7 separate regions of the Homo sapiens genome follow, and regions 2, 3, 4, 5, 6 and 7 are each reported to be linked to region 1. Evidence: microRNA targets listed by miRTarBase, many of them from high-throughput screens and not tested one by one. Region 1 holds a microRNA gene; each other region holds the end of a gene's coding sequence.

The links. The annotated mature microRNA hsa-miR-100-5p reads AACCCGUAGAUCCGAACUUGUG and lies in region 1 at 1,444-1,465, opposite strand. An mRNA with a match to its seed (bases 2 to 7 or 8) in the 3' UTR can be bound and repressed. Matches are read on the target gene's strand: a 7mer-m8 pairs with bases 2 to 8, a 7mer-A1 pairs with bases 2 to 7 and ends in A, and an 8mer does both.
Region 2: the mRNA of SNX4 is a reported target of hsa-miR-100-5p. The part of its 3' UTR that is shown has no 7-base or 8-base seed match.
Region 3: miRTarBase lists RCN2 as a target of hsa-miR-100-5p. The part of its 3' UTR that is shown has no 7-base or 8-base seed match.
Region 4: the mRNA of VPS45 is a reported target of hsa-miR-100-5p. The part of its 3' UTR that is shown has no 7-base or 8-base seed match.
Region 5: miRTarBase lists PSMA5 as a target of hsa-miR-100-5p. The part of its 3' UTR that is shown has no 7-base or 8-base seed match.
Region 6: miRTarBase lists SLC17A8 as a target of hsa-miR-100-5p. The part of its 3' UTR that is shown has no 7-base or 8-base seed match.
Region 7: the mRNA of PAFAH1B1 is a reported target of hsa-miR-100-5p. The part of its 3' UTR that is shown has no 7-base or 8-base seed match.

The regions. Positions count from the first base shown.
Region 1 is chr11:122,150,832-122,153,916 of GRCh38, forward strand. It overlaps MIR100 (microRNA 100), which reads right to left and starts at 1,477; the gene lies at 1,398-1,477. All of the region lies in intron 4 of MIR100HG (mir-100-let-7a-2-mir-125b-1 cluster host gene), which reads right to left. MIR10526 (microRNA 10526) reads right to left here and starts at 1,325; the gene lies at 1,272-1,325.
Region 2 is chr3:125,444,958-125,448,042 of GRCh38, reverse strand. It overlaps SNX4 (sorting nexin 4), which reads left to right. Exons shown (of 14, transcript NM_003794.4): 14 at 217-1,393. The coding sequence ends at 264. LOC124906351 (small nucleolar RNA U13) reads right to left here and starts at 1,982; the gene lies at 1,880-1,982.
Region 3 is chr15:76,948,843-76,951,927 of GRCh38, forward strand. It overlaps RCN2 (reticulocalbin 2), which reads left to right. Exons shown (of 7, transcript NM_002902.3): 7 at 228-3,085. The coding sequence ends at 380. Among named protein-coding and RNA genes, the nearest start is that of RCN2, 19 kb to the left of the region's middle.
Region 4 is chr1:150,144,295-150,147,379 of GRCh38, reverse strand. VPS45 (vacuolar protein sorting 45 homolog) reads right to left here. Exons shown (of 15, transcript NM_007259.5): 15 at 2,051-2,671. The coding sequence ends at 2,584. Among named protein-coding and RNA genes, the nearest start is that of PLEKHO1, 4.1 kb to the left of the region's middle.
Region 5 is chr1:109,399,257-109,402,341 of GRCh38, reverse strand. It overlaps PSMA5 (proteasome 20S subunit alpha 5), which reads left to right. Exons shown (of 9, transcript NM_002790.4): 9 at 252-3,085. The coding sequence ends at 329. Among named protein-coding and RNA genes, the nearest start is that of SORT1, 2.9 kb to the right of the region's middle.
Region 6 is chr12:100,419,575-100,422,659 of GRCh38, forward strand. It overlaps SLC17A8 (solute carrier family 17 member 8), which reads left to right. Exons shown (of 12, transcript NM_139319.3): 12 at 241-2,481. The coding sequence ends at 585. Among named protein-coding and RNA genes, the nearest start is that of NR1H4, 53 kb to the right of the region's middle.
Region 7 is chr17:2,681,250-2,684,334 of GRCh38, forward strand. PAFAH1B1 (platelet activating factor acetylhydrolase 1b regulatory subunit 1) reads left to right here. Exons shown (of 11, transcript NM_000430.4): 11 at 480-3,085. The coding sequence ends at 553. Among named protein-coding and RNA genes, the nearest start is that of MIR6776, 10 kb to the right of the region's middle.

The sequences.
Region 1 (3,085 bases):
AGAGGCATATAAAACTAACCAAGCAAATTGTTTGCTTTTTGTGTAGATAAAGGCCTTAGGCAAACAATTTATACAACACACACCAATGAGGACAGTCTTTCACTTTGGGTTGTAATATGCCATCATTCTATAATAAAGCAATGCTTTCTTGGCAAGCAGGGGGTTGAGCACCATAGACAACCCTCCTCAGTGCTATGCAAAGGAAATGCATGGAAACAATGTCGTCTTGGTCTAGCAATTACAGAATTCCAAATTCTACCCTTTATACATATGTCATCTGTATCTAGGCTGTCCTAATTCGGAAATGCAAAATCTCATTTCTATATACTGGATAAAAGAAAGAGTTTTAGTTATTCCTGAGTAGGTCTTAAGAGGAGACAGAATTTATCCACTTGAATTTCAAACTTTTCTCTAATGTTAACCCACCAACTACTTCATGTTGACTTTTTTTGTTAGAAGAGGACACACACACACACACACACACACACACACACACACACACACATCTTAAGGGAACTTCTGGCACTATGTTTTACCAAAAGGGCATGCAAAAGTTTTAGAGTCATCCAAATCTGATCAACTTTTCACCCTGGGTTCTAGTTCTGTTTACAGACTCCTCAGCTCACATTGTTGGAATGAAACAAATATAGCCAGTTTTGCTTTGATCTGTGGTCAGTTTAGCTTTTCAATCCTGGCACAATGGTGACATTTAAGAGGCAAGAGGATAAAATTATTTTCATTCCAGCGTTTTAAACAGGATAAAGACTTATAAAACAGCTCTGGCCAAATATGAATTTGGACCTAAACAGGCGATCTCTTTTTTATAAGAAGTCCTTCTTACACTGCTGGATATAAATAGAAGTATAAATAGTTAGGCAGTTAAACACATCCATTCTGATTTATCAGTCCTTATCTTCAGAAGCAAAATTATTGGGGAAATTGGGGGAGGAAGAATTGCAACAAAGGAAAACCCAAAAACCCAAATCACGGTGAAATTGGTCCTGTAAACACATCTGCCACTTTCCAGAAAATATCATAATAACTTTGAAAACAATTAGGCTTACAGAAAACAAAACAAACCCTTGTTTATCTCTTTACTCATCACTCAACAGTAAGTTGTTCCAATCACTCAAATTCTTGCTGCCTCACCTGTAAGCTCAGCCTTCTAATTTGACAGCAGAGACCAGTTACAAGAGATATGGGAATTGAGGGCCAGCCTATTAATTCATCATTGAAGAACCTCATTCATTTCAGGACAAAAGGTCTCCTTCCTCCACCTCAGCCCCCTTTTCCATTTTTATCACTCTTAAAGGAAACTAAGGGGAAGAGAAGGAGAATGAAATAACTCGAAGGGATATTGAATGGCATATAAGCAAAGCCCCAGGTCCGTGAGATTGCCTAACAGACACATACCTATAGATACAAGCTTGTGCGGACTAATACCACAAGTTCGGATCTACGGGTTTGTGGCAACAGGCCTCAATATCTTCTCTCTTTTGGGGCTGTGACATGTCTGAAAATAAAATATTACAACCATTAATCCAATAAAAGAGTCTACCATTCAATTGTTTTATGCCATAAATGGAAAGGACTTCGTCCCACTCTCACAAAAGCAAAAGTTAAGCAATATCTTCTATGTTCTCCCCAACGTGCTTCCCTTGGTTTCCACTTTTTCCACAAATCCAGTGGACTTTAGGTAAACCTCATCATTTTACTGTTTATATATGGAAGACTCATTTATTCACTGCTGAACACATAATCTGGGCAAAGTGATACCAAAATGGCAAACCAGCAGAATAAAGAAAATTCTTTAAATTGTAGGCAGAGAGAAAGAACACATGAGAGCCCAAATGCAAGTCCATTCCTTTAAATACCTGTCATTACATTAAAAATGATGGTGAAATTTTCATTTTCCTATTTGCATTCTGGAAAACAACTAGAATAAACTTAGCAAGTACTACCAACGGATTTATAGGTATATTTTTTTTTTTTTTGAAAACCACTCTAGAGTAGATTTTCAGGTATATTAAGATCCATCTTCGGGAAAAGTTTGCATTTTTGTTCCCACCCCCATCCCATCCCCACACTTATTATTGATTCAAACACCAACAATGAGCAAGTTTGGGTGTACTCTGTAAAATTTGAACCATAGAAGAAATTACATAGTTGTTCCTCCTTCCCCCCGCACCCCCCGCCCCCCGCAATACTGTTTGAAAAAACAGGGATGAATCTGTTTCAGAGACCTTCTTATAAAATGATTGCATTTGTCAACATAACATTTTTTTTCTGCAAAGCCAATGTTCTACATATAAGAAGGGAACATCCAAGACAATGGACTTTCATTAACGACGCCTTTTGTGAATTGTATTGAAGACAGGCATAATCATAAGCACTTCAGGGACATATATTATACAGCTAAATAACTCCCTGTCCTAGATGCTGGGAAACACACATGACTCCATCCCTTTACAGGACCTAAAAAGAGACCTTTTTAACTTTTGTTAGCTATAATTATGGATCCTGGCTCTCAAAATAATTATCTCATTTGCCTCAAAAAATGGACATTCACTCCTTTCTCAAGAATCTGGGGCCAGGCACTGGTGGCTCATGTGTGTAATCCCAGCACTTTGGGAGCCCAAGGCTGGCAGATCACTTGAGGTCAGGAGTTCAAGACCAGCCTGGCCAACAGGGTGAAACCCTGTCTCTACTAAAAATACAAAAAAATTAGCTGGGCATGGTGGCGTGCGCCTGTAATCCCAGCTACTCTGGAGGCTGAGGCATGAGAGTTGCTTGAGCCTGGGAGGCAGAGGTTGCAATGAGCCGAGATTGTGCCACTGCACTCCAGCCTAGGCAACAGAGTGAGATTTTGTCTCAAAAAAAAAAAAAAAAAAAAAAAAAAAGAATCTGGGAGATGAACTGAAGCCCTACCAAGGGGAACAAAAAAAGACAGAGCTGAATTGAGGAATTATTCAGAGAAAAGAGCAGGCCCTCGTGTATGCAACCTAAAAAGTTAAATAAAGAGAACAGGAAACCAACAGTACGATGAACAGAAACTGAGACATAACCATTCATAGATACTTTGTTG
Region 2 (3,085 bases), not on the chromosome of region 1:
TTTCCATTTTGAAGATAAGTTCGTATTAGAGATTCTGTTTCTCTTTTCAGAAGCATTAGACATTTGCTTATATTAGCCACTTCCCAAAATAGTGTCATATTTTCTCGACTTCTTAATTATTCCAAAAAGCAAAACTTAGTGTACCACTAAGCCAAGTACTTGGGTTTTCAGATTCCTTCCAAACTCACATTTTAAAGTTTTTATTTTTATTTTTAGGGAATTCAAGTTTGGACCAATGCTAAGGAATGCTTTAGCAAGATGTAATCCTGTGAATTGAATTTCTCTTCAATCAAAGTGCCCCAAAACAGAAGCACAAGTAAATAAAAGAAATTTAAGTCACTACCTAGTATACATAAACATATACAATAAGTTAAATAAATTCAGCTTTCTTTAACTTAATTGTGGTCGTGTTAATGTAGCACAAAAAATATATTTTAATGAAGATTAAATATTATAATTTGAGGTTTTGGGGACTGGTGCTGATTCCAAAAAGTTAATTTAATAATATATACCAACAGATTGTTTGTCACGCTTCTGAACCAATGACTGAATGTCAAGATGTTCGTTAATTTCTAGATGTTTGTTTCAAGACCAGCTGTTTCAGATCTATTAATGTAGGGAATTTTTCCCTAAGATTGAATTCCTATATTTACTTGGTAAGATCCACTAATCTGTTATAGGGAGTTGTTTTCTCTTGCCTTATAGTTGAGCTATTTGGTTTGACAAAGCTCAGCAGAAACTTGATGTGAAAAATCTACGATTTTCTTCTACATTCATTGATGCCCCTTGTAATGTTTGCATACACTAGAAAATGCCTTCAATTTGTGTTTTACCAGAATTTTGATACTGGTCAGAAATTTTATACTGCCAACAAAGAAGACTCAACTTCTCAGATCTATAATGGGATACATTGTCATCCTCTAGCAACTCCTATATAGAAAGTTTTAACTGAATATGTTACATATAAGAATTAAATTCTTCTCAAATAATTCTTAACCTCAGTAATGAGCCTAAATTTACTCTGCTTGGCTCTCTACACATGGCATTTCAGGGTATAAGATGTAGCATTTCAATGTGTAAGATATATGTACTAAACATATGTGTTGCTATCTTCATCATTAACATCCTTCTTTTCTATTGCTTGGCTGTAATTTTTGTAAAGATAAATTATATTGTTTTTTTGTATGTGTGTTTGTAGTATATGTTCAGAAGGCAAGCATCTTCATTTTGCTAGCTTTGCAGAATCTTAAAATGTGTACTCGTTATTTCTAATGATGTAAAAAAAAATCCCTAGTCCTGTTTAGCATTTGACTTTTTTATATGTTTTAAATGTTGCTGGATTTTTGTGCTGTTTGCCAAACTTATACAATAAATAAATGAAATATTGTGCTGATTTTCAGATGATTTTTGTTAATTTAACAAAGTGATCCATACATATTAATATCTGATGCTCTGTAAGAAAATGATATCTGTCATACTATGTTTTAAAGTGATTAATGCCACATGTTCTCACTTATCAGTGAGAGCTAAACATTGAGTACACATGAACGCAAAGATGGGAACAATAGACACCAGGGCCTCCTTGAAGGGGCAGATTCGGAGGAAGGCGAGGGTCGAAAAACTAGCTATTGGTTACTATGCTCACTCCCTGGGTGATAAAATCATTTGTACACGAATCCCCAGCAACACACAATTTACCCATGTAGCAAACCTACACAGGTATCCCCTGAACCTAAAACAAAAGTTGAGGAAAGAAAAAAAAATAAAGTTATTAATGGTATAAATTTGTCATCTACCAAAATATTGGTTTTTAAAAATATAAGATGCTGAAATAAGACATGATTTTTAAAATTTTACTTTTTTTTTTTTTTTTTTTTACTGTCAGATGGGTAATGGTTGAAGTTGTAACAAGGTTTGAGGGAGGCACATCTCACACGTGGGTGTGAATACCCAATCATCATGCTTATGAACCACAAAAGGATCATGAGTTTTTTTTTTGTTTTTGTTTGTTTTACTTTAAAAAAAAAAAAAGAGACAGGGTCTGATGTTGCCCAGGCTGGTCTGAACTTCTGAGCTCAAGGAATCCTCCCGCTTCAGCCTCTCAAAGTGCTGGGATTACAGGCGTGAGCCACCCTGACCCGGCCTGTTTTGTTTTGAGACAGGGTCTCTGTCGCCCAGGCTGGAGTATGGTGGCACAATTATGGCTCACTGCAGCCTCAACCTCTGGGGGCTCAAGTGATCCTCCCACCTTAGCCTCCCAAGTAGTTGGGACTACATAGGTACACCACCATGCCTGGCTAATTTTTTTATTTTATTCTTGTAAAGATGAAGTCTCACTGTGTTGCCCAGGCTGGTCTCAAACTCCTGGGCTCAAGCGATCCTACCCCGTTGGCTCCCAAAGTGCTGAGATATAGGCAGGAGCCCCTGTACCCGGCCATGTCAGGGTTTTATAAAAGATAAAATTGGTAGAAGCAAAAGTCATCTGTGTGGATACACATTTTATTCCACTGAATTGTATCATCTCTTGACAGATAAAATACCTTTCCCCTTGGCATTTAAAGATCAAAAGCCTTTTCCCCCAAACTAGCTTTGGACTCGATGTAAAATGTTAGACTTTTTTCTACTAGCTGACTTAATTTGAGAAGGCCATTATTAACTATGTTTCAAAAATGATTTAAGTTCCATGGCTCATGCCTGTAATCCCAGCACTTTGAAAGGCTGAGGTGGTTCGACTGCTTGAGCCCAGTTCAAGACCAGCCTGGGCAACATGGCGAAAACCCATCTCTACAAAAAATACAAAAATTAGTCGAGTGTGGTGGTGCACACCTATGTAATCCCTACCCAGCTACTCAGAAGGCTTAGGTAGGAGCATCACTTGAACCTGGGAGCTTGAGGGTACAGTGAGTCATAATCACACCACTGCACTCCAGCCCAGGCAACATAGTGAGATCCTGTCTCAAACCAGCCCAGGCGACATAGTGAGATCCTGTCTCAAAAATAAATAAATAAAAAGATTTAAGAAAACTCTAGACTGGGTGCAGTTACATGCCTGTAACCCCAGCACTTTGGAAGGCTGAGGCAACTT
Region 3 (3,085 bases), not on the chromosome of region 1:
TGGATTGGATTTGAGTGGAGAGAGACAGAACCCAGCAGAAATGAAGAAAGGAGATAATGGGAAAAGCAGTAGACGGACCTGGTTACAACGTGTAACATTTTTAGATACTTAAACAATAATGAGTACTTGTACACCTGGATGATTTTGACAAGTCAAATCACATTAAATTGTGAACATCTTGCTGAAAATACTTATTACACTTGACACTTTTTTGTTTTATTTTGAAGGCGCTTCATCTAATTGATGAAATGGATTTGAATGGTGACAAAAAGCTCTCTGAAGAAGAGATTCTGGAAAACCCGGACTTGTTTCTCACCAGTGAAGCCACAGATTATGGCAGACAGCTCCATGATGACTATTTCTATCATGATGAGCTTTAATCTCTGAGCCTGTCTCAGTAGAGTACTGGCTCCTTTTATAATTTGTTACCAGCTTTACTTTTGTGATAAAATATTGATGTTGTATTTTACACTCTTAAGTCTTAACCACAGTCAGAATTATCTTAATGTAGATTATAATTTTGGTCTTTTAGGAAAAAAAAACAAAAATCTGATATTTATTTCAAAATGTATTGAAGCAACAAAATATTAATATTGTGCCATATGACAACAAAGTCTTTCCTAAATACTCCATCTGTTTAGTACTGTATTGTGGAATATTTGAGTTCTATTTCCATACTTGAAAACATGGAGGATTTTAGAGATGCCTGAACAATATTATTTAAGTAGTATGTGACCGAGCTATAAATTTTTGTTTTTGTTCTAAGTAGATTTAATTTGGGAACTGACAGGACAATGTTTTTAGGTTTAGCATTTTGTTTAAAAACCTTTAAAGAAACCTTTAGAAGGACTTAGACCTCACATATTAATGTTGAGAAGTTCTGCTTAATTTTAAAATGGTTTCTATAAAGGGTTTTATTGTATGAAATAGAACTTTATATTTTTGCATATGTATAGATAGTAATTATATTTAATGTATAACTATAGCATTATGGTGAGTGGAATTTGACATTGTCCAAACCTTTTTCATTTTTGAGTGATTAAAAATGAAATGTCCTTTGTATATGTTTGTTTGCTTTTCTTTAACTTTCAGATAAATATTGAATTTAGCATAGGTTTTGTGGTATTGTACATTATCTTGCCTCATCCATTCCTTTATGTGGATAGTTCCCAAAACTGTCAAATTATTCTTGCTGCATTTTCTTATTTTTTTTTTAAATAAGAGAATCATGTTATAATATAATTGAATGTGCACCTGACACATTTTAATAATTGGTGTTGTAGCAAATGTGGTTTTGCTCTTTGGGGCTATAAATAATCTTGAGTAACGCAGGTTGGAATTACCAATAGAGCTGGTCAGTTATCAACAGTAGAGCTCAGTATCAATTTTACTGAAATTAAAATCATACTTGATAAGCATGATAATCAATTTTAACCTAATTCAGCAGGTCAACTTATTTAACTTTGGTGGAGGTGGGATAGGGAAAAGTGAAGGGAGGAATTAATTTTTTTCTAGTTCTGATGTACAGAGATTGTTTTTCATTCTTTTTTTTTTTTTTTTTTTTGTGACAGAGTCTTGCTCTGTGGCCCAGGCTGGAGTGCAGGGGCACTATCTCGGCTCACTGCAAGCTCTGCCTCCTGGGTTCACGCCATTCTCCTGCCTCAGCCTCCCGAGTAGCTGGGACTACAGGCGCCTGCCACCACACCCGGCTAATTTTTTTGTATTTTTAGTAGAGACCGGGTTTCACCGTGTTAGCCAGGATGGTTTCGATCTCCTGACCTCATGATCAGCCCACCTCGGCCTCCCAAGGTGCTGGAATTACAGGCGTGAGCCAACGCGCACGGCCTCTAGTTTTTCATTCTTTAAATCACTTTTATTTGTGGGTGAAGAGGTCAGCTATGCATTCTCTTAATCACTTTCCAGCCTAAAGTTGTCTCATATACAGCACACTGGGGGCTCAACAAGTACCTATGACTATTTGAGAAGACATGAAACTCTTCTCTGATAGAATCGACTGCACCTATATACCTCTCTACTGCCGCATCTTTGCTGATGTGAGGTGTGCTTGCAAATTGTAAGCTTCCACACCTTAATGACTGCTTGCTTGGGTATCTACATGGTTTTCATTTTAACCTACACTATATGTCTGGCTATAGCAGTTTTAGAATTACAGATTTACCACTATCACTCATCTGTCATTTGTCAGACTCACTGAAGCTGGCATATTTGAAATCACCAGTTTGACTAGTTAACTATTTGTTTTTCTCTCTAGCTTCTCCAAAATCTATGCCAGAATAGATCATCAGATATGGATTATATTTCAATCCTTTGCAGAAATGCAATGTCTGTACTACTTTCCTTCCTAGCATAAAGAAAACTACACTTCCCAGCCCTCTTGTAGGTAGGCGATGGCTAGTTCTGACCAGTTAAACATGGGTGGAAGTAGTGTGTGTCACTATCAGACTATCTCATGACAAACCCTTTTCCTCTGCCACAGCACTGTGCAGGAGGCCTCAGCTGAAATGGTGCAGCCACAAGATGAAAGTGGCTTTGATCTTGAGTCTGTGTAGGTCAGCTGGATCCACAGTGGGCTTTGTATGATCAAAAAATAAGCTTTTAATTATGTTAAGCCACTGAGATTTGGTTGTGCTTTTTTGTTTTTAACCACAGCAGAGCCCATCCTGCTGTGACTGAGTGAAGATTTCACATTTAACAATAGGCTTTTAATAAGCATGCAGAGAAAAAGAATCATCTGCTTGAACAGAGATGCTATATCTACTGCTGAGTCAAAATAGAAAATTTTAAGGCTTTTTTTAGATTTGAATTTTAAATAAGACTTTTAAAATAAAGCTTTTATTTTGGTTTTAATATAATTAGGATAATTTGAATTTATCCTTGAGCATGAGAGTAAAAATAGTTTGAGACTTTCTGAATCATTGGCTGATTCTGCCTGAAGGACTTAATGACTTCCATTATTTGAGTTCAGGTACAACTTCAAAGGGGAAAATTGAATGGGATGTGCACATGTTGGCTCATATGTAGTTCTGATTGGGCCAATTTGCAGGACAGAAAATGATGTCTAGAT
Region 4 (3,085 bases), not on the chromosome of region 1:
ACCTTCCCTGCCTGTCTGCTCTCTTAAGATGTTACATAAATCTCTGGTGTCCTCTCTTTCTCTCTGCCCTGCTCCATCCTGTGATCCTGCCCCTACTTTCGTTCACCTGTTCTCCCTTTGTCCTGTCACTCACCCCTTTCCACTTCCCCTGGCCTATTCTTGAAGCTGGTTTGTCTCACCAGGTGAACCTCATGGCACCTGAATTGGGATGTAGGTGGGACTGTTTTCCAAAGACCAATGCTAAAGTGAGAAATCTGAGAACGTATGTGTTCCTATACACATTTTTATAGCGCTGTCTCCTCAGCGCTCCTCAGTGAGCTTGACACTACACGCACATAAACCACAGAAATCACTCTCAGCCAGTTTCTGTCTGTGGTGAAGATAAGACACTGGGAGGACCTCATGATGGGGGTACCTCTCTAACAACATCTGAGGATAAGACGCGACTGCTAGTAGCTGTATTCTATAACGGAATATTTTATAACTTCACTAAAGGGAGAAAGAAGGGAACTATTAGAGATAAAAACTTGTCAACTGCTGCTTGCAAGTTTACTGGACAGAAACTGTTATTCAAACACAGTTGTCTAAAAACAAATATCCTTGGCTTTTGTGGAGTAAATGGAACACAGAGGTTTTGACCAGGGCATTTCCACCTATGGGGGAGAGGATTATTAAAAGCATACAAGACCTTAATTAAAGTGATGTTTTTAAAGGGCACAAAAATAAAGGGCCAGTACAAATGGAATCAGCTCTGTAAATCTTACACAAAAATACGTGTCTTTGATTCTTAATAAAGAAATGCCAACTTCTGACATCAAACACCCTGATGGTAGGGCTCATTTCTTAGACTTCTTGATATTGTCAGTTGAGTAGGCACAATGGAAGCAGATGAATAATGAGGAAAATGACATAAGGAAGGTCTCTGTTTTTGCTCTTTTTATTCCACAGCGTTATCTTGCTGATAGGAAGAGAAGCACAGATATTCCTGCTTGGAGGAGGGAGTTTTTCATATTTTAAAAGGCTATATAACTTGTAAAATGCTGCATTTAAAATACTCCATCCCCAAGTGCAGGCTGTCTTAAATACTTATAAAAAATGAAGAAGAAAAAATTACCCAAAGGGACCCACAAAAGCAAAAAAAAAAAAAAAAGAACTTGGATTTTACTTCATGAGTGCGTGTAAAGAAACAACAGCTGAGGCCGAGTGCAGTGGCTCACGCCTGTAATCCCAACACTTTGGGAAGCAGAGGCGGGTGGATCACGAGGTCAGGAGTTCAAGACCATCCTGGCCAAGATGGTGAAACCCCATCTCTACTAAAAATAAAAAATAATAAAAAAAAAGAAACAACAGCTGAGAGCTGGGACGAGTGGAAAAAAGAGAGGGACAGAATGACCTTTCAGCTTTTCCCTCTATTTTTTGAACTGCTTATTAGTGCAATGATTAGATGTGCAATGATTAAAATGATTAGTCCAATCATTTTACATGTGACTCTGTAACCCCAACTTAGAGACAGAAATTAATCTTATTTACTATTAGCCAAATTTTATTAAATGATTACCGTATACCAGTGTTTTAAGCACTTTTCATGTATCATCTCATCTCATTTAATTCTTCTAATCCTATGAGGAAGGTTCTATTTTATAGATGAGAAAGCTGAGCCACAAAGAGGCTAAATAATATTCCCAAAGCCATATAAATATGACATAGGTTTGACCCTTACTGTCTGATGCTAGAGAATATTTGTCAACATACAAGTTTACACACACACACACACACACACACACACACAAAACAGGGAGGGATTGTGCTTTGGTATTTTTGCTATGATGATTTGAGGATGCCTTAATTTCCTGGCAATAATGATACTGTCACTTTCTCCTGTTTTCAAGAGAGGTGAAATTGACACTAGAATTTATTATTTGCCTTGACATACTTTAAATATCCTTCAGGTAGAAGTAATGCCTTCATTATGTTTGGTGTGAAACCAGCTCATGTCCCACCTCATAAATTCCCATAAATTAGCCTCAAAGAAATAAAACTAAATCACTCATATCCTTTCACAAAATGGATTTTTATTGTGGTCATACATGGTTTCTCAGTGCCACAGAAAATTGCTATGTAGGGACAAAAAATTTTTGGATGGCTCTGTAAAGAAACATGGTAGGTTTTCAGAAATGAGTTGTGCAGGAATGTGGTTAATGAAAAGCAGAAAGGGTTAAGGGAAGAGAAAGGAAGCCAAGGAGTGTGGTATGTACATCAAATGATTACTTTTTAAGCCCCTCTAGGCTCTGATAACCCTTTCCCCAAGTCAGATCCCAACAAAATTCATCAGTAACTGAAGTGATTGTGCTAACAGATACATAAAGACTACCGGAGAAAAGTGGGTTGAGATGGGCTCAGACTTATTGTTAGGACAACTCTGGGAGTCTTGTGTCTGTGCCAACCACGTATCCGTGGGCTACCTGGAGATGAGTTCTAACAACCAGCACAGAACCCAAAGCTGCTCTCCAACACCTTTGTTTAGTAGGGAAAACCTGTAGTGGGGACAAGAGAGGAAGCTGTGCCCTTCCCCCAACCACCGTTTCATCTTCTGCTCGCTGACCTTGATGTGACTTGAGAGCTCTCCTTGCTTCGGCTGTGCAGTCCAGAAGCCAGAACTTCCTCTAGGAAACTGATAAGTAGTTTGAGGTTACTTGAAGGAAAAAACAAAAGCATCTCCAAAAATAGAATGTCTTGCTCTGGACATCTAACCAGATGAAAATATATCATGAATAGTAGGCAGGAGGTACTGGTCTGATATTTGGGTATAGAATGGAAGCATCAGTTGAGCACTACAACATCCATACTGCAAGGACAGTCCTTCTGTGCTCTTCCCCAGGGTCTTCATTTTTTTTTTAGAATTAAATTTGTAAGATCTATTAAGACTAACATTTCAAGTTTGAAGTTTCTATTTAGGATCCCAGAATTTTTAAGGGCAAGGCCACTATATTAACTCAGTACCATGTTACATCAGCACCTGTTATCTGTACTCTTGAAACTGTCTCAGAGCTTGTATGTTGTCTATAGTTTCTTTCTTATCCAATCT
Region 5 (3,085 bases), not on the chromosome of region 1:
ATGCCAGGCATTTGGTTAAGTATGATGTGGTGAGTTAACCTTAAAATAGAAAATTTGGTCAATAAGCATTTTTATTTTGGAGCCAGAGAGCTATTTTAGGGACCTGCTGCCTGGAAAGGATATCCTTGGGACAGCAGATCCCTTAGTTCCTAATGAATAGCTGCATCACCAACACAGCTTCTCCTGACCATGGTAGGGCCATCAGCAGGGTAACTCAGCCCAGCTTATTAACCCTTCTGTTTTCTTTCCAGCTAGCCACAGTGCAGCCTGGCCAGAATTTCCACATGTTCACAAAGGAAGAACTTGAAGAGGTTATCAAGGACATTTAAGGAATCCTGATCCTCAGAACTTCTCTGGGACAATTTCAGTTCTAATAATGTCCTTAAATTTTATTTCCAGCTCCTGTTCCTTGGAAAATCTCCATTGTATGTGCATTTTTTAAATGATGTCTGTACATAAAGGCAGTTCTGAAATAAAGAAAATTTTAAAATATTTGTTAATAGACTGTTCTCTTCTAATAGTCTTTTTTTTTTTTTTTTTTTTAAGAGATGAGGTCTCACTATATTGCCCAGGCTGGTTTCAAACTCCTGGGTTCAAGTGATCTTCCCGCCTCTGCCTCCTGAAGTGCTAGGATTATAGGCGAGAGCCACTGTGCCCAGCCATTGTAATACAGTCTTTTGTTTGAAATGCAAATGTTAGTGGGCCAAAAGGACAGTGTTATTAATATCCCTATTCTATGAAGATGTCTGTTCTAAAACTGTTTTAGTGATGCTCTATAACAGAATCAACTATATCCATTAATCCCATGGTGTTGATAAATGAACTAGTCCAGCTCTTCCCAGTGGTTAATAGATGTTAACAGCACTGTAAATCCATTTCGGCCCTATAATTTCTGGAGCAAACGTGTATTTTTGCTGCTTTTCTTATAAGGAGATGCTACTAATTGACTATCAGAAGAACATGTTTTGAGGTCCTCCTCAAAACATTGATGGGTTGGAATCAGCCATCAACAGTGTTGTACCAGTTCTTGGGTCTTGATAGACAATTTGGAAAGAGATTTCCTTGTTTACGAAGTGAAGGACTAAGAATTAAATTAATGACCTTGGCCTCACTGGCAATCAATTACAAATCTCTATATCAGTAAGAGAATTGTAAAATTCAGAAGCAGTTTACATTAGACTTTGGAATGAATGATGAACTTTCCCCATTAGAGCTGCCATCATATGATTGGTGGAGATTGTTTAAAGAATCATTCTATCTCAGCCTCAAAAATTACCACGGGAAGATGGTATCAGTATCACTACTTAACAGATGAAGAATCTAATGCTGTGTGCCCATGGACACACAAAATTAAGCTGTTGGGACTTGAACAGCTCAAATTTTCTTGTTTCAGATCACCAGCTCTTGAGTAATAGGGAAATCTGGAGATTTGAAAAGTACTTGCACTGTCCACAACATGGCTAATCCATATGTGGATGATGCAGAATTGATTTAATTCACTAACAGGGACCCCATAATTATTTGCTGGGCTCTGGGTATATTGATGTGTAGGAAGTTGTACTATATGTTAATAAATTATGACTATTTGGATAGGCTGAATTCATACTAAATCCATACTGTAGTTCAACAAAAAACAACATGTTTATATACATTTGGAAACTGCAATGATAGGAAACATTTGGAAGAAAGGGATTTTGCCCTAGAATAACACATAAGGAAAGCAGAGAATTAGAGTATATTGTTACTGAATGTTCCAGAGACTTCTAGTGATTTTAACACTTATTAAGTATAGCATGTTGATGGGGAGATTTGTTTCTCTAAAGATCACTTTGTTTTATTAAATCCTAATAGAAAATACCCTTGAAAATCCTATCTCATTTATTCCTGTAACAAATTTATTGAGCACCTACCTACTATATGCCAAGAAATGTATTAGCCATCAGGCAGAGAGCTGTTCAAATGGTAGATATGATCTGTGCTCCTGTGAAACTTCTAGTGGGGAGAGCCAAACAATAAACAATATTCCTTTTTAACTCTAGGTTAATGCAGAAATGGATAAAGCCCATGTTGCTTTTGGGAGAGGTGAGTTGTGTCTCTGAATCACATGCATTTCATAGGGGGAAAAATGCCCAAATACTAAGGAGTAGCTCTTAGCCTATGTCCGTTCGCCTCAGCTTAAGTTGTTTTCCCTCCCACTGGCTGGGCAGCATATTTGTGTTTTACCTGGTAAAACAGTAAATTTCGTACCTTCTATAATTGGCATTCTTCAAAGAGGTAGAACTTTGATTTTTTTGTAGAATATTAAAACAAGCTTTCTTAGGTTAAAGAAGTGATCTTACTACGAACAGCAATGGTTTCATGATGTGTAATTGCTTTATGTTATCTTTCTGCTATAGAATGTTTCCTGGAGAAAGGTACGGTTTTTAGTAATAAGATAAATTTACTTTAGTCCTGCAAATAAGGTGAAATCTTATGTCCAGTATCTCACAAAGGAGAACTGACAGTGCCACTTTTATATTTAATGTCAATCTCATTAGACAAAAATGAAATATAGTTCCTAGGGTTTCCAATTTAAAAAGTGAAATAATAAATATATTCACTCAAACATTTTCTCAGTGCCATATGCAAGTTACCATGTCCCAGAAGCTGATACAGTTTGAAGAAGGAAATATATAAGTACTGTAAGCCTGTGATAACTAAAAGCAACATACTAAAAAGTGAAGGTACAGATAATTGGAACAAATTTAATAGCGTTTAAAAGTGTATTTGGTAATTTCTCCAGGAGGTGGCACTGTTGAGTTGTTTTTTCTTTTCAGACAGTAAGACAATAGACCATTCATCTTTGTGTCACCCAAACAAAGAAATATTCCTTTATAACCCCCTTTCCTCCCCCCACCTAATCACATGCTACTGGAACTGACTGTCTTGTGATCTACTCCCATAGTTGGCATAGATTTAAAAATAATCTTTTTTAAATTAATCTGATAGTAGTTATGGAAAGGAACAAATTGTTCACCAATTTTCATCAGCTTTATCTTTTCAGTCCAGTAACTGAGAACTTAAAAAGACTATTCTAGTGATTTTA
Region 6 (3,085 bases), not on the chromosome of region 1:
TTATTGTTTTGTCTAACTTTCATATTCATTGTTGTCTTAACTTTCATTTTTTAAGTTTTTCTTTTAAATTTGGTTTGAATCCCGGATGGTGCTTCTGACACACGTCCTCCCGCCCAAGGAGCCTCTAGAGCATCACCTTCCAAATGGGCAGGTGCTTTTTCACAGTGGAGGCCTCCAGGACATACTGGTAATCTCTAGTTTTAGTTAAAACATTAATTGGCACTTTATTTCCTTATTTAGACCCGTGAAGAATGGCAGAATGTGTTCCTCATAGCTGCCCTGGTGCATTACAGTGGTGTGATCTTCTATGGGGTCTTTGCTTCTGGGGAGAAACAGGAGTGGGCTGACCCAGAGAATCTCTCTGAGGAGAAATGTGGAATCATTGACCAGGACGAATTAGCTGAGGAGATAGAACTCAACCATGAGAGTTTTGCGAGTCCCAAAAAGAAGATGTCTTATGGAGCCACCTCCCAGAATTGTGAAGTCCAGAAGAAGGAATGGAAAGGACAGAGAGGAGCGACCCTTGATGAGGAAGAGCTGACATCCTACCAGAATGAAGAGAGAAACTTCTCAACTATATCCTAATGTCTGAGAGGCACTTCTGTCTTCTCCTTACTTTAGAAACAGAAAGTATCCATACCTATTGCCTTTCTTGTAGCCCAGCTTGCCAGAGGTCCAAATATTGGGAGGGGAGAAGATCTAACCAGCAACAGGGAAAAGAGAAATATTATCTTTCAATGACATGTATAGGTAAGGAGCTGCGCTCAGTTGATAACATAGTTGATAATACATATTTTTTGAATTGACAGTTGACCCTTCTCTCAAAGAGCTAAACTTATTCAGAAAGGAATGACTAGAAGAAAAAGGAGACAATACCATGTTGTTCAAAGAAACATTGAAGGAAATTGGGATGTTTGGCCAGAAGGAATGTAAACAGTAGTAGTAGCTGCCACCACATCTCTAGGGTAGCCATGCAGAGGAGGGCTTCATATTCCCAATAAACCCCACGTTGTGGCAGGTGCTTTATAAACACTCTTATTTAATCTCCACACCTTTATGACACACATTTCTTATCCCCATTTTACAACCAAGGCATCTAAAGCAACAAGAAATGAACTTGCCCAAGGTCATCTGCCAGGGTCAGTGCTGAGACTGTTGAAGCTCTCAATAGGTGGCAGTTTTAGGGAAGATTTCCATTCAGTGTAGGGAAGACATTTGTAATAATGAAAACTGAAAATGGAGTAATTGTGAGTAACTCACCACTTTAGCAGGTGTTGGGGAAGGGAAACATTTGGGTTGATGAGGCAGAGGGGATTCAAATGTGTGAGAGGCTAGATTCAAAGACCCTCAGTGTTCTATGTTATCTGAAGAGTCAAATGGTTTTGTGACTCCATAGTTTTTAAAGTAATAAGGGTCAAAGACTACATCAGAGATTCAAATAGGTTTTTAAAGAAAAGCTAAGCAAGAGAGCCAAATTTTTAGAAATCTGATGGTCAAAATAGCTGAAAGCAGTAAACAAGAGATTGGCTATTAAATTTCAACTTTCCATAATATTAAGAATGTAGCTAAATGATGTCCCAAACTACTTACAAACTTTTAAGACATTTAATAATTTAAGAAGTAGGTTCATGTGTTTTCTTAGGTAAAGTTCTTCTGAAAGAATTTTCTATTTTTAAAAAATGTATCTCTTTAGCCTTTTCTGCTGGAGATTATATTAGGAAGTTTCATCAGATTGTATAAAATTATGATTTTGTATCAAAAGTATTCATGATGACTCTATTTGGAATGATATTCAGGGAAATCACAATAATATAGCAGTAGTTATACAGAGAAATACTACAATGAAAACATTTGGGGCAATTAGACCTACAGTTACTGTTGAAAAATTCACCTTTGATTGCATAAGGCAATTACATGGATACTTTTAGATATATTTAAAATTTTAACATTGGCATCTAAAGTGTTATTTGAAAATAAAATTATTTTCCTGTTCATTGATTTTAAACATTTTATTCCTACTTTCAGAAGAAAAATATAATACGGAAAAAATTATAGATTTACTTGTAGCTTATTATTGTAAAGTGTTTTTTTTTTTTTTTTTTTTTTCTAATTTCTCCCACATGTATTTCTGGTCCCCAGTGATACTAGCTGAGTTGTAGTGTATTTTATAAATGGAATAATCTTGGGGAAAAATTGCGATTCTTCATTAAATAATATTCTTTATGTCACTAGCATACAATTTATGTTAGTAGACATCTTTAAATCTCTTTAATGAGTGAATCCATGCAAGCCCCATAAAACAGTTCCTAGCATGCAGAAAATGCCCACGTAAATAGCTGTCATCATCATTATCTTTTAACATTTTGGGGGACTTTCCAGTTGAAAAGAAAACATGCTATGTCATTTTTATCCATTATCCCTGGAACTTATTGTGAAAGTTGTGCTGTTTTCTAAGTAAAATAAAAAATAAAAAATTAGCAATTTATGATAGCCAGTGTTTTATTTTGTGTGTGTGTTAGTAAAGTCAAATAATTGTATTTTAAAAACTCACGATAATCCTTAAGGTAGTATTGTATATTGTGACACAAAGTTGTATTTATCGCATCATTTGAAGTTGGTATCATATGCAGAAAACCCACGTTTTTCCTGTAACTTGCCTTTATAATATGTATTTTTTTTTAAATGAAGTCATGGATCAAGGTGTTAAAAACTAAAAAATACATTATTTTGTTGTGATGGGTTTTTCTCTGCATAGGTAGCAATGGATAAATAATTACATTTTAACACCAGACAGATGCCATTTGCAAGTCATTGTACATTTTGCTGCGAATGTCCATTTGTAGGTCAATTCATGGATGCAAACCATGGATTCTAGCAGGAAGGGAAGGAGGCCTGTAGGTGCAGGGTTCTTGAGACAAGAAAGATCTGATGATCCTTTCCAACAATCAAAGTTTTGGAAATTCCTTAATATGACAAGAAAAGTAAGTATTAAAGAAATAATGGCCCATTTGTTATCCCTGTCTGGATGTTAAATTCAACAGGTAAAAATTGGAACCTATTATGTGTATTTCTATTTTACTCTGCC
Region 7 (3,085 bases), not on the chromosome of region 1:
AAAGGATTTGAGCCCCATTTGGGATGGGCCAAAGAGGAACAGGCGTTTTTATTGAGATGTTAATACAGGATTTGATCATTGAGTCTCAACTTCCCTAACTGAATTGGCAAACTAGATACCTTCTTGGGTTATGGTATATTAGAGAAACACGAAAACTACTGGCATTTGGACTTTCTTAGAATTTTGTGGCTCATTAAAAATTGTATCTGGCTCAGTGTGATGGAGGGTTGGGACCGGGCAGGGTCTTGCTCTGTCACCCAGGCTGGAGTGCAGTGGTGCAGTCATGGCTCGCTGCAGCCTCGACTTCCCAGCTCAAACAGTTCTGCATCAGTCTCCCGAGTAGCTGGGACTACAGGCACACACTACCATGCCCGGCTAATTTTTTTTTTAATTTTGTATTTTGTAGAGAGGGGGTCTCACTATGTTTGTTGTCCAGGCTTACGTGTGAGTTTTAAATAAACCATTTCTTTTTCTTTCAGATTTCCACAAGACGGCACCCTATGTCGTCACTGGCAGCGTAGATCAAACAGTAAAAGTGTGGGAGTGCCGTTGATTGTGTCTCCTTCGGCCCCTCCTCCCTCTTTTCCTCTGGATGCACTCTGATGATACCATGGTTACCCCATTGAGCTCTGTTTAAATAAATATTGTCCTTTCATGTAAATTATTCTGGATGTAGATTGAGCTTATTAAATGTTACACACAAAGTATTCATGCATGGTGAATCCAAATTGTATACTGTAAATTTACATACGTTGTCTAGAAGTACCATAGGGTTTAAAAACCTGGGCTGGCATTGGTCACACCAGGCCTAAGAAGGCAGAAGTTGAATCAATTGAACTAGGGCACTAAACTGAATAGTTGACAGTGTCATTTTATGTTGGATTATTAATTCCTGTTTTTCTTTCTGCTATCTGTTGGTGCCTGACTTGATGGCCTCATTTGGGGAAAAGTGGTGGTTATTAGGGCTTTTTCTGAAATGTGTATCTATGTAACATCACTTAAGTGTGCTTAATAAATCTTCTGTAAGGATTTTAGATGATAAGGCTACAATTCAGAATCTTCTGAACCATCTATGTAATGAATGGGGATTATACATTGGAATTTTTGTCATGACACATTTGCCAAATCAGTAGGATATATTTGTTTTGGCAGCCTATCACGCAGAGGCTAGTGGTATATTTATGTAAGAAAATGACTGTAAATCTCAAGAAAAATCTCAGCAGCTAATAGCAACTCATTTATTTCATTTTGGTCTTAATGCTTTGTAAACAGGTCAAAAAATACTGTCATACTCTAAGCTTCTATTTTCCACACTGGACATACTTCTAGTTGTATTCTCCATACTATTAGACTGTGTAGTGATGTGACTTCCAAGTAGAATTTAATCTCCCCATTGAGTGTGTCATGGTACAAATCACTATTCGTTTTTGGTGTTTTTTAGGGATGTGCAATGTGCATTACATAATGACAGAAATACTGAGAAGGTTCTGTGTGCCCATTTGAAAGGAGTGGGAGGAATACAGCAGTTTGTTTTTCAACATGAATCTGATATTGATTTAAACTGTGTTTCACTTACAAGTTTTAAAAAAATGACAGGGTTTAATGGAGCGTGCATAAAAATGTACTGTTTTCACCTTTTGTTTATATGTAAATGTTTGTAAGTATATGGGCCTATCTGTAAGTGGATAAGTCTGTATGTGTGTATCATACACATCAACCTCCATGTCCTTAGTCCTGGGTTTTTGAAAAAGTGCTAAAACGGACAAGTAGAATAAATGTTGCTGTGGAATGCCATGCTTTAGAACAAACCCTTTTTGATCTTAATGCTTCTGAAAACTAGGTCTGACTCTGGGGATTTTTTTCCAGCCGAAGGAAAATCACTTCCGTTATGTCCCCCTCTAATTTAGCCGCTCGACATTTTACACAACCCGGATATGTTGTATATTTTGACCCAAAGTTACAGGTAGGTTTAAGAGAATTTTTAGCCATGACTTTTGGAGCACTATTCCATTGTCAGTTATTAATAAAGAATTCCATTGCTTAGCTAACCAACAGGTTTTTTTTGTTTCCAAGAGAGTTATTTGAAAAGTTAACAGAACAATGAGATAACAGTGACAGTTTAACAAAGATAAAATTCTGAACTGCGTTTTATTCATTTGTGTACTATGTGATTTTTTAAATGTCCCCTTTAGTATTTAATGGAAAATTGGTTCCTGCAAAAGACAAAGGGTGAGAGTTAGCGTCCTGTAGATACACACAGAGACTAGGCCGTATATTAACTAGAAGCAGCTTTATGTCTAGCTTGTGTCTTTTTGTTTGTTTGCTTGTTTGTTTTTAGATTCCTGAGAGATGTCTCTGGAAGGGAAAGTTTTGAGAACTAATGGCTATTTTTGAGGACAAAAATTACATCTTAAGCTAATTCCTTAAATACATACAGTAGGTGAATTTTCAGGACAATATTGCCTCACAACCCTGCTTACATTGAAAAGTCTTTTTCCCTTAGCTCTTCTGACTGGATTTTTCTACAAAAACTATGGAAAATATCTTTGTTCTTGTTTGCTGCTATTTTCTGTCCTATTTTGAGAAATATAAATACATAGAAATGGTGCATCTTAACATTTGTTTGTACATGTATAAATGTCTTGTATTTTAATTCATTTTTAGCATGAATTGTTTAAGGGTAAGCCACAACATCTAGAAATCACTCATAGATATTGAACAATAAAGGAGAATGGTACCGATGCAGGAGGAAGCAAGCGTGTCTTCCCCTGCAGCACACAGCGACTTGCGTTGACAAAGGAGGAGGAAACGATTACTCTGTAAACAAAGTTATCCTTACTTGGGAGATTGCCACAGCCTGCTGCTGAGTTGAGTTACCAGACATCCTCCATGTGAGAAGCAGCGAACATTGAATCTCAGGGATGGCCCACAACTGGGTCCACATGTAATGAGCCCTGTTTAATAACGAAGGGGTGGGGGAGAGCAGTCCGTCTACAACCTGGAATCAGATTTGCAAAATTTCCTGCACTGCTGTCTGACACTGTCCTGTTGATGCCCTTTCTGACTGTGTTCTCTGTTTTCTCTG